Regions from separate parts of the Homo sapiens genome. Here region 2 is linked to region 1. Evidence: fine-mapped expression QTL. A gene starts in region 1. The other region holds a variant in brackets. All regions are shown on one strand. Distances are from middle to middle.

The links. PIP is the estimated chance that this variant, and not a neighbour inherited with it, causes the effect. A credible set is the group of variants that fine-mapping cannot tell apart.
Region 2: its variant is the best candidate, but not a certain one, in a credible set for the expression of RIOK1 in esophagus mucosa (GTEx, PIP 0.67).

The regions. Positions count from the first base shown.
Region 1 is chr6:7,386,593-7,391,970 of GRCh38, reverse strand. RIOK1 (RIO kinase 1) reads right to left here and starts at 2,163. Exons shown (of 17, transcript NM_031480.3): 1 at 1,898-2,163. The coding sequence starts at 1,968. It overlaps CAGE1 (cancer antigen 1), which reads left to right and starts at 2,229. Exons shown (of 14, transcript NM_001170692.2): 1 at 2,229-2,769; 2 at 4,775-4,992. The coding sequence starts at 4,798. RefSeq lists enhancers at 1,491-2,277, 1,881-2,300, 2,431-2,480, 2,491-2,550.
Region 2 is chr6:7,338,507-7,343,884 of GRCh38, reverse strand. All of the region lies in intron 11 of CAGE1 (cancer antigen 1), which reads left to right. It also overlaps the pseudogene RPS3P4 and the pseudogene ACCSLP1. Among named protein-coding and RNA genes, the nearest start is that of SSR1, 28 kb to the right of the region's middle. RefSeq lists a silencer at 1,312-1,474. The variant G/A (reference allele first, on the strand shown) is at 1,984.

The DNA.
Region 1 (5,378 bases):
CAATCCCAATTTATTAATTAGCCATGGCTCTGAGGGTTCCCCGTGGACATGTGGAGGAAGAAAACAGACAATCATCAAACACTTGCTACTTACCAGGACTTCATACATATGCTCCACAGATTGATATATAATTGCCTAGAGTGGCATGTTAAAGTTGTAACTTTGCCAGATAATTCTTCGTTGTGGGGGACTGTCTTCTGCACTGTAGGATTTTTAGCAGCATATCTCTGGCCTCTACTTACCAGATGCCACTAATGTACCACCACCCCCAGCTGTGACATACAAAAACGTCTCCAGAAATTGCCAAAAGTCCCCTGGGTAGAAGTCGGGATGGCAACATCTTCCCCAATGGAAAATCACTGGTGTATCCTTACAATACCCTGGGGTGGATGGTAAATTAGTGCCCTCTCATTACCATTAACTACCCACTAGCTATGCTGGCTGTGTTTCTTCTGCTGCTTTTCTTCTCTAAAGCTTTTTGTACACTTCTCCGTAACCATAAAACTGGAATGCCCTTCCTCTTTCTCTGGCTAACCCCTACTCATCCATCAAGTATCAGCTCACTATCACTTGCTCAAGGAAGTCTTCCCTATTTTTCCCCCACTTCTCCTTTGTACTACTTACCCAATTCGAATACAAATAGTCTAATTATTTAATAATATCGGTTTCCCCTGCTAGGGTGCAAGCTCTGTGTCATTCAGGATGGTATTTACCAATGCCTCCCTACCACCTAAGACTAGATCTGACTCACAGAAAGCATTCAACATACATATATTTATTGAAAACATCCCCAATAATTAACAAAATCCGCATGTGATGAATCCTTACTGTAAACATAAAGTACAAGCTGTTTTCTTGGAATTCCAAAATAACTCCAATATGTTTCATTTTGCTTTTAGGCAGGAGTTATCCTTCATCCCTCTTTCCCCAGACTCCACGTCCAGTCTACCACCAAACGCTGCCACTTCTACCTCCAAGACATATCTTTAGGATCTGGGCTCTAGTCCCCACCATCTTTGAATCTGATTACCTTATTATTTTTGAACTGGTCTCTCTGTTCCACTCCCACCCTCCATGAACATCATCTACCTAGAAAGAATGATTCCTTTAAATCACCAAGCAAATAATGTCATTCTTCTGCTAAAATCCCTCCTATGGCTTTCCATAAGACCCACATTAATATCTGAACTTTTCACCATCACTTGTAAAGGTCTCCATGATCTGGCCCCCCTTCTTACTTCTCTATCACCCTACCAATCTTCTCAACTACCTCCACTGTGCTCTAGGCACTCTGGCCTCGGGGCCTTTGCTCTTGCTGTCCCTTCTGTGTGAAATGCTGTTCCCTCTGCTCTTGCCAGGATTAGCTCCTTGTCATTCAAATCTGGACTTAACCTTTCCCTACCCATTCAGTCACCACTTGGTATATCAAACGATTTGCATAGTCTACATCATTATTTGGTTTTTAAATGGTGTGCCCTCTCTTTCACGTAGAAGGTAAAGTTCCATGACAGCAGGAAGTTGGTTCTTCTTGTTACCTCCGGCGCCCAGGACAGAACGTGGTACATATTAAGTGCTTAGTAAGTATTTGTTGAACGCTAAATGTGGTTAAAACGCAAAAACCCATGTTTCCTAATCGCTATCCCCAACTCTGCCTCCCAGTGACGCTAACCGACCTGAGAACCGCAGACTCCCTTGACAAGTAGCTTTCACTTAACTCTGCCGCGTGAACTGGGAGAAAAACCCAGCTGGGATGCAGAAACAGGCAAAGGGTTGTCAAGAGAGACGCTGAGTGATGAACCACTAGTCTCCCTCTAAACCGCAAACAAGAGTCCACACCCCAAGGGGGCGGTCAAGGAGAGAGCCGTACCCAGAGCCAGGGCACTGTACGGCCGCCTACCTGTCAGAGGAGTCCGCGTCGTCGAATTGCCCGGGGACCACCCGGCTCATGAGAAGCCGCCGGTAGTCCATGACTGGAGAGCGCCGCCGGAGGCCGCCGCTCTGCGATGGAAAGGAACGGCTCAGACGGATGTACCCACGGCCGATCCAAAGGCCTTGGCGTGGATATCCGCCTTGCAAACCATTCAGAAGCCAACAGTGGCCACCACGTGCGACGGGAAAACGGGACCGACAGATCCACCACCCTGCCACCCCAACCGGAAGCCCCTCACCGCCTCGCCCGGAAGTCTGACTTGAGCGGAAGTCCCGCCCCTGCGCCGAGCTGGGAGTCCGGAGCTCTCTGGATGGCGCGCTGTATAGGGCTGTGGATGTTCTGTGCTCTCAGGAAGGCGTGTTGAGTAGCCGGCACGGCGAGGCCCGTGCTGGCCGTTTCTTCCCGGAGTTTTCGTTTCTGTACCCCACTTTGTGTTTACTGCGGCAGGAGGCGCCAGCTAGCCCACAGGCTGTTCGGCCTAGGGGGTCGTACCTTCCTAACTTCACCACTCTCTGGGAAGACACCGCACCCACAGTAGGGTCGCTCGGGCCTCGCGGGCTGCACCTGTCTCTGCGGAGTTCCCCCGGCGCGGGCGGACGTCACACAGGGGCGTTCCAGCACTCCGGGAGCCCGATTGCGAGTTTGTGAGAGTCCTTGGTGGAGGAGGTTGGAAAGCGTTCTCCCTCCCACAAAACCCGGTGCAGAGGGAGGGAGAGCCAGGTCCGTAGCGTGGGTCCAAGAAACTATGGATCCTGGAAGTGAGCACACTTTTGTGTCTTAAAAAGTTTGGTGTCTCGTTTTGAGGTGAAAAATGAATGAGATAAGTGCTTTTTAAAAAGGTAAAGTTTGTCTTACAACTGAAAAAGCTTTTAAACAAAACTATAGTTTTTGCGAGTAACTCCCGTGACACCTCTTTTAACTCCTATCTTAAAACAGCTTTAGAATGTCTCTGGAACATCTATTCAAACATTTGATAAATATGTTAAAAATCCAACATAAACCTGTAAGGACAAATGAAAGATGGAAAAAATAGTCTAACTTTAAATTAAAAAGGTAAACTGGCAGATTGTGCAGTGCCACATGAGGGATGAACAAAGTTGTAGAAATGTAATTGGAAGTGCTGGGTTCACAAACAAGAAAACTAAGAAACAAGGCCTTTGCGCTTTTTTGCATTGGGAAAACAAAGCAAGAATTTTTCAGATCTCACCACAATCCAGGCAGCATTATTTGAAAGACAAGGGAGAAGTGAGCATAAAGTTGGGCCTTTCACTGATCCTGACTGGTCTGCTTGGCTTACTTTTTTATATTTTACCAAGTGATGACATAGGTTTGAAAACAACTAATTTTCAATAAACTATTCATTCAGAAATTCAATAAAAGAATCCAGGCAGATGAGTAATGACTATAAATTGAAAGAGCTTGATAGAAATAAGTCATTGGAATGCAGGTTTTATTCAATCAATATTTGCTGTGTAGACAGCACTGGTCCATTTGCAGTAGGGGATATTGGAAAGCCCTAAGTATGCTCCTCTCAAGACATTTATGATCTGTAAACACAAACACTAACACCCTTGAAACAGTGGTGAAGCTCTAAAACAGTAAACGAAATCACCAAGTGCTGAATTGTAAGATAGAGATTTAGAGACTGAAGACATTGTAGGAATTTTGAAAATAGATGAATGGGTAGATGGGAAGGTTTTAGGAGAGAAGCACGTGCCAGGGCAGATGACTGAAGCTTAATTCGTAAGGAACATTATCTGTCTGCAGGGAAATGAGCCTGATCTGAGTAGAGCAGGGGAGTACCGGGTAGGGGATGTCACTCCAGGCTATGGATGGCCTGGAAGGACAAAAATTTATAGAATCAATGTGAGTGGCCATCCTTTCCACTCTCAGCTCTGGAGCTCTGGACAGGCCTGAGGAAGTCAGGAGAATATGGACCAGTGTGGCAACATGGGATGGAAAGAAAGCACAGGTTACTGAAAGACTTTTTTTTTTTTTTTTTTTTTTTGAGATGGAGTCTTGCTCTGTCACCCAGGCTGGAGTGCAGTGGGCCATCTCGGCTCACTGCAAGCTCTGCCTCCGGGGTTCACGCCATTCTCCTCCCTCAGCCTCCAGAGTAGCTGGGACTACAGGCACACGCCACCGCGCCCAGCTAATTTTTTTTTTTTTTTTTTTTTGTATTTTTAGTAGAGATGGGGTTTCACCGTGTTAGCCAGGATGATCTCGATCTCCTGACCTCGTGATCCGCCCGCGTCGGCCTCCCAAAGTGCTGGGATTACAGGCGTGAGCCACCGCGCTCGGCCCTGAAAGACATTTTTAAAGGAGACATGGACGGGACTTGGTATCTGAATAGCCATGCATGATGAGGTAGAGGGATGCCAAGACAAGTCCAGTTTTCAAACACATGTACCTGAGGGAATAGGCGCAGTATAGGAAAGTGAGGAGGGAAAACAGTTACAATGCTGGGTTTGACTTGGTAGTGAGGTGTTCAAGTGGAAGGTATCAAGTAAATAAAAATCCAGGATTTTGTGGAAACTATTAGGTCTCTGATAATATTTTGTAAATATCCTTGATTAAATAACACAGAGATCCCTTCACTTCTAGGTCCAAAGCCTTCTAGGGAGTTATTGGATAGTAGCCAATACTGTTTGTTTTTCTCCAAATCAGTATTTACTACCATACCAAATTACGGTATACTCAGACTAAAATTTTTAATTTTTCTAATAACTTGACAAATGACATTTCAAATAAGGGCAGTGAACTTTGCTACTTTCTTAATGAGAAGAGGGATAGGGAAAAAACTTTTTGTTTATACCTACTAATAGACACATTTTTTTTTTAAAGAAGTCTTCTATTGTTCAACAGTTATGAACAAGGACTATCAAAAATTTTGGTCATCACCTTCAGATCCTGTACATTTTGAAGTGGATACTTCTCATGAAAAAGTAGAAAGCATGTCAGAATCGGATACCATGAATGTCAGCAATCTTTCTCAAGGTGTAATGCTTTCACATTCTCCAATCTGTATGGAAACCACCGGCACCACTTGTGACTTGCCTCAGGTGTGCATTGCTTATAAGTTCCAGGAGGCTCAGATGTATTCAGAATTCACATTGTCTTCCATATGAAAATTTCTTCAAAACTATAAGGAACAATAAAACAATATTCGGTGGACACATAAAGGAGGGGAATACAGGGTCTGGTTTTCCCAGTTTCGCTAGCGTAAGATACATTTTGACCAGCCTGGGCAACATGGTGAGACCCCATCTCTGCTAAAAATATAAAAATTAGCCAGGCATGGAAGCGAGCACCTGTAATCCCAGCTACTCTGGAGGCTGAGACAGGAGAATCACTTGAACCTGGGAGGTAGAGGTTACAGGGAGCCAAGATCGCGCCACTGCACTCCAGCCTATGCGAGAGAGCAAGGTACATTTTTACACACAGTGTT
Region 2 (5,378 bases), 48 kb after region 1:
TATCTTTGTCCCCATCACAATCATTACATCATCCTGGTGAGAGGTCGATCCTCTTATAAAAATGTTCCAGTTCATTTCCTGTCCTGGCTTCCCATTTTCTCAAGCCCTGCTACCTTGTTATTCAAGGTGACCTTCTATTCCATTCCTACCCATTATATGATCCCTGATCATAATCTGTAGTTTTTGAAGTCACTCATCAAAATCTGCATTAACTTATTTACTATTCACCATCCACAGAATGCCAACAGAGTCCTGGAAGAATACTTCCATGCCATATCTCCTACAGACAACACTGAATTCATAAATGACAACTCACTGCCCTGTCACAGCAACTGTTATTTCTACCCACATGAAGCCCCTGTAAATGTTTTTCCATGCAAAACCATATCAAAAATAACAGAAAATTTCAGTGTAAATCCACAACCTTTCTTTCTAAGTTTCATGATACTTTGAGTACAGAATGATCAAAAAGTTTGATTGGATTGAACATTCTTTTAAAAATCCATGTGATTTTATACCTTGATCATAGAGAATAAGGTGAACATTTGTTTACCCCTAAAACTTGTAAACCCCACAGAAAGCTGCATTTCAGTATATAGTAAAAACAACATTAGTACTGCCCTTATTTATAGTCACAATCCCATTGTATTTCTTTGACTTCTTTTTCTTTTCTTTTCTTTTCTTTTTTTTTTTTGTGGGACAGAGTCTCGCACTGTCGCCTGGGCTGGAGTGCAGTGGTGCCATCTCAGCCCACTGCAACCTCCACCTCCCGGGTTCAAGCGATTCTCCTGCCTCAGCCTCCCAAGTAGCTGGGATTACAGGCACCCACCACCACACCTGGCTAATTTTTTTGTATTTTTAGTAGAGACAGGGTTTCACTATGTTGGCCAGGCTTCTTTTTTAATGAAAAAAGGGTTGGCATAAATACAGCCAACTGATCTTCAACAAAGCAAACAAAAACATAAAGTGGGGAAAGCACACCCTATTCAACAAATGGTGCTGGGATAATTGGCAAGCCACATGTAGAAGAATGAAACTGGATCCTCATCTCTCAACTTATATACAAAAATCAACTCAAGATGGATCAAGGACTTAAATCTAAGACCTGAAACCATAAAAATCCTAGAAGATAACATCAGAAAAACCCTTCTCGACATTGGCTTAAGCAAAGACTTCATGACCAAGAACCCAAAAGCAAATGCAACAAAAACAATGATTAACACATTCATTGAGGAGAAGGGTGGCAGAGCAGTTCCCTGAGCACTGACAGTCAAGGACAGTTTGTTCAGTGAGGCTTTAGACTGGAGAGAAGATAAGTGAAAACAGAGACAGAGGTGACAGCCAGCCTGCAGGAGCCACTACAGATACCCGGAGTATGAGTCATCAGTCAGACACCCTTCCTGTGCCATCTGGCCAGATGAGAGGCCAGGTCCTCAGAGACCAGAGCATCTATACCCAGCTGTTGAGATGATGCTGCACTTGCGGTAGACCATGAGGGAGTACTTCATGCAGCTGATGAGCAGGCAGGGCCCTGCCGCTGGAAGAATGGAGGCACACTCAGGCCATCCGTGAGCATGAAGCCCTTCTGGGTCGCTTAATGTGCCAGATGATCCAGCTCCTATAGTCTGGGGCCATAAGTGGCCTGGAGCTCCAAGTGCCTCTTCCTTCCCAGGACTCTAGGGGTGATGTCAGATATGGGCAGGGGGCCCAACTGTCCAGGCAGCCTGATCCAGTTCCCCAACTGAGTGATTGTGAAGCTGCCTTCATCAGCCGTGACCTATCCAACTGTGGGATTGACATCTCTGTCTTCTATTAGTCGAGCTTCCAGGACTACAATGCCTACCAAAAAGACAAATATCATAAGGACAAGAACACCTTGAGCTTCGTTAACCTTGGCACCAGTGAGAACAAGCTCTGCATAGATCTGATGACTGAAAGATTGCAAGAAAGTGACACGAACGGCATTGAGGACATCTTGCTGCA[G/A]TACCCTGATTGGAGAGGGCACCCGTTCCTGCAAGAAGAAGTGGCCCAGTTCCTGACCTACTAGTGCAAGGCACCTGCCCGACTTGATCCAGAAAATGTGGTTGTTCTAAATGGCTGCTGCTCTGTCTTCTCTGCACTGGCCATGGTTCTGTGTGATCCAAGCGAGGCCTTCCTGGCGCCTGCTCCCTTCTATAGTGGCTTTGACTTTAGCTCCTGCCTGTACGTGAAGGTTGAGTTGATTCCTGTCCACCTGGAGAGTGAGATCACTGTTGCAAACACCCATCTGTTCCACCTTGCTGTGGACAAGTTAGAGGAAGCCCTGCTTAAAGCTAGGCCTGAGAGGAAAAAGGTCCGAGGCCTTGTGCTAATCAACCCTCAGAATCTTCTGGGTGACATCTACTCCTCAGACTCGCGATGGAATACCTGGAATTTGCCAAGAGGTATAACCTACATGTGATCATAGATGAGATTTACATGCTATCTGTGTTTTTGATGAATCCATCACATTCCACAGTGTCCTAAGCATGAAAAGTCTGCCTGATCACAACAGGACCCATGTGATCTGGGACACCAGTAAGGATTTTGGCATCTCTGGCTTCCTCTTTGGTACTCTGTTTACACCCACCACAAGGAGATGGCTTCTGCTGTGAGCACCTTTGGCTACCTCCACAGTATCTCTGGCATCACCTAGCACAAGCTGTGTCAACTGCTCCAGAACACAGAATGGATTGACAAAGTGTACCTGCCCACCAATAACTACCGGCTGTGGGAAGCTCACAAGTACATCACTGCCAAGCTAAAGGCATTGGAGATCCCCTTTCACAGCTGCAGCTCTGGCCTCTATATCTGGATCAACTTGAAAAAGTACCTGGATCCCTGTACATTTGAAGAGCAACAGCTCCTCTCTCCGCTTCCTGGACAACAAGCTGTTGTTATCCTGTGGCAAAGCCTGTATGTATAAGGAGCCAGGCCGGTTCCACCTCATCTTTGCAGACGAGCTCCCCCCGGCTAAAATTGGCCATACATCAGTTCTGTGGTGTGCTGCAGGAACAGAAGCAGGCTTTGCTAGTGAAGCAGTTGGAAGATGCATTGAGGGAGTAGACTGTCTGCCTCCCAACGAGTAGCTCTAGCCCATCACTTGCTCAGGGACCCCCTAATGTCAGCCCCTGGTCCAGAAGCCTGGGGTGTATTTTTGTCAGTGCTGCAACTAAGAAAATTGTGGGCTCCTCCAGGAAGATCTCATCTGACCCAGTCATCACCCTCCTTAAGCTGAGTGCCTGCTGTCTTTGGAAGCTTTGCATCTTTTTAGTGTTTGCTAGATATTATATATGCAAAATGTTTTTATTGGGGTTGGGGTGGGAAGGCCTGGAGGCACCTACAGAAATAAAGGAAGCTCCCTGGGCCCCTATTTAGATGGTTTATTTTTATATTCAATATCTAATAAATTCTATGTTCTCTTAAAAAACTGATAAATAGGTGGAACTTAATTAAAAGTTTCTGCGCAGCAAAAGCAATAATCAGCAAAGTAAACAGACAACCCACAGAGTGGGAGAAAATCTTCACACTCCGTACATCTGACAAAGGGCTAATATACAGAATCTACAAGGAACTCAAACAAATTAACAAGAAAAAAACAATCCCATCAAAAAGTGGGCTAAGGACATGAATACACAATTCTTAAAAGAAGATATGGAAATGGCCAACAAACGTATGAAAAAATGCTCAGCATCACTAATGATCAGGGAAATGCAAATCAAAGCCACAATGTGATACTACCTTACTCCTGCAAGAATGACCATAATCAAAAAATCAAAAAATAACAGATGTTGTCAAGGATGCGGTAAAAAGGGAACACTTCTACACTGCTGGTGGAAAAGTAAACTAGTATAACCACTGTGGAAAACAGTGTGGAAAGTCTTTAAAGAACTAAAAGTAGAACTACCATTTGATCCAGAAATCCCACTACTGGGTATCTACCCAGAGGACAAGAAGTCATTATTCAAAAAAGATACTTGCACATGCATGTTTATAGCAGCACAATTTGAAATTACCAAAATATGGAACCAGCCCAAATGCCCATCAATCAATGAATGGATAAAGAAATTGTGGTATATATATACACCACGGAATGCTATTCAGCCATAAAAAGGAATGAAATAATGGCATTCACAGCAACTTAGATGGAATTGGAGACCATTATTCTAAGTGAAGTAGCTCAGGAATGGAAAACCAAACATCATATGTTCTCACTCATAAGTGGGAGCTAAGCTATGAGGACACAAAGGCATAAGAATGATACAGTGCCTTTCCTTTCAGCGGAGCATGGCGGCAAGATCGCCTTACAAATTTCCAAGAAGAGGAAGTTTGTCACTGATGGCATCTTCTAAGCTGAAATGAATGAGTTTCTTACTCAGGAGCTGGCTGAAGATGGCTACTCTGGAGTTGAGATGCGAGTTACACCAACCAGGACAGAAATCATTGTCTTAGCCACCAGAACACAGAATGTTCTTGGTGAGAAGGGCCGGCGGATTCGGGAACTGACTGCTGTAGTTCAGAAGAGGTTTGGCTCTCCAGAGGGCAGTGTAGAGCTTTATGCTGAAGAGGTGGCCACTAGGGGTCTGTGTGCCATTGCCCAGGCAGAGTCTCTGCCTTACAAACTCCTAGGAGGGCTTGCTGTGCGGAGGGCCTGCTATGGTGTGTCGCGGTTCATCATGGAAACTGGGGCCAAAGGCTGTGAGGTCGTGGTGTCTGGGAAACTCTGAGGACAGAGAGCTAAATCCATGAAGTTTGTGGACGGCCTGATGATCCACAGCAGAGACCCTGTTAACTACTACGTTGACACTGCTGTGCGCCATGTGTTGCTCAGACAGAGTGTGCTGGGCATCAAGGTGAAGATCATGCTGCCCTGGGACCCAACTGGTAAGATTGGCCCTAAGAAGCCCCTGCCTGACCACGTGAGCATCGTGGAACCCAAAGATGAGATAACTGCCCACCACCCCCATCTCAGAACAGAAGGGTGGGAAGCCAGAGCCTCCTGCCGTGCCCTCAGTCACCACAGCATAACAGGATCTCCTTGGCAGCTGTATTCTGGAGTCTGGATGTTGCTCTGTAAAGACCTTTATAAAATATTGTACAAAGACAGAAAAAAAAAAGAATGATACAGTGGACTTTGGGGACTTGGGGGAAAGAGTGGAAGGGGGTGAGGGATAAAAGATTACAAATTGGGTACAGTGTATACTGCTAAAAATGGCAGGTAAAAGTAAATGGCAAATCCATGTTCTAATCCCTAGAATCTGTGAATGTTACCTTATATAGCAAAAAAGGGCCAGCTTTATGTGTAATAACAATTGTATCCATCAATGTTAGTTAGCATATTTAAAAAACTAAAAAAGAGA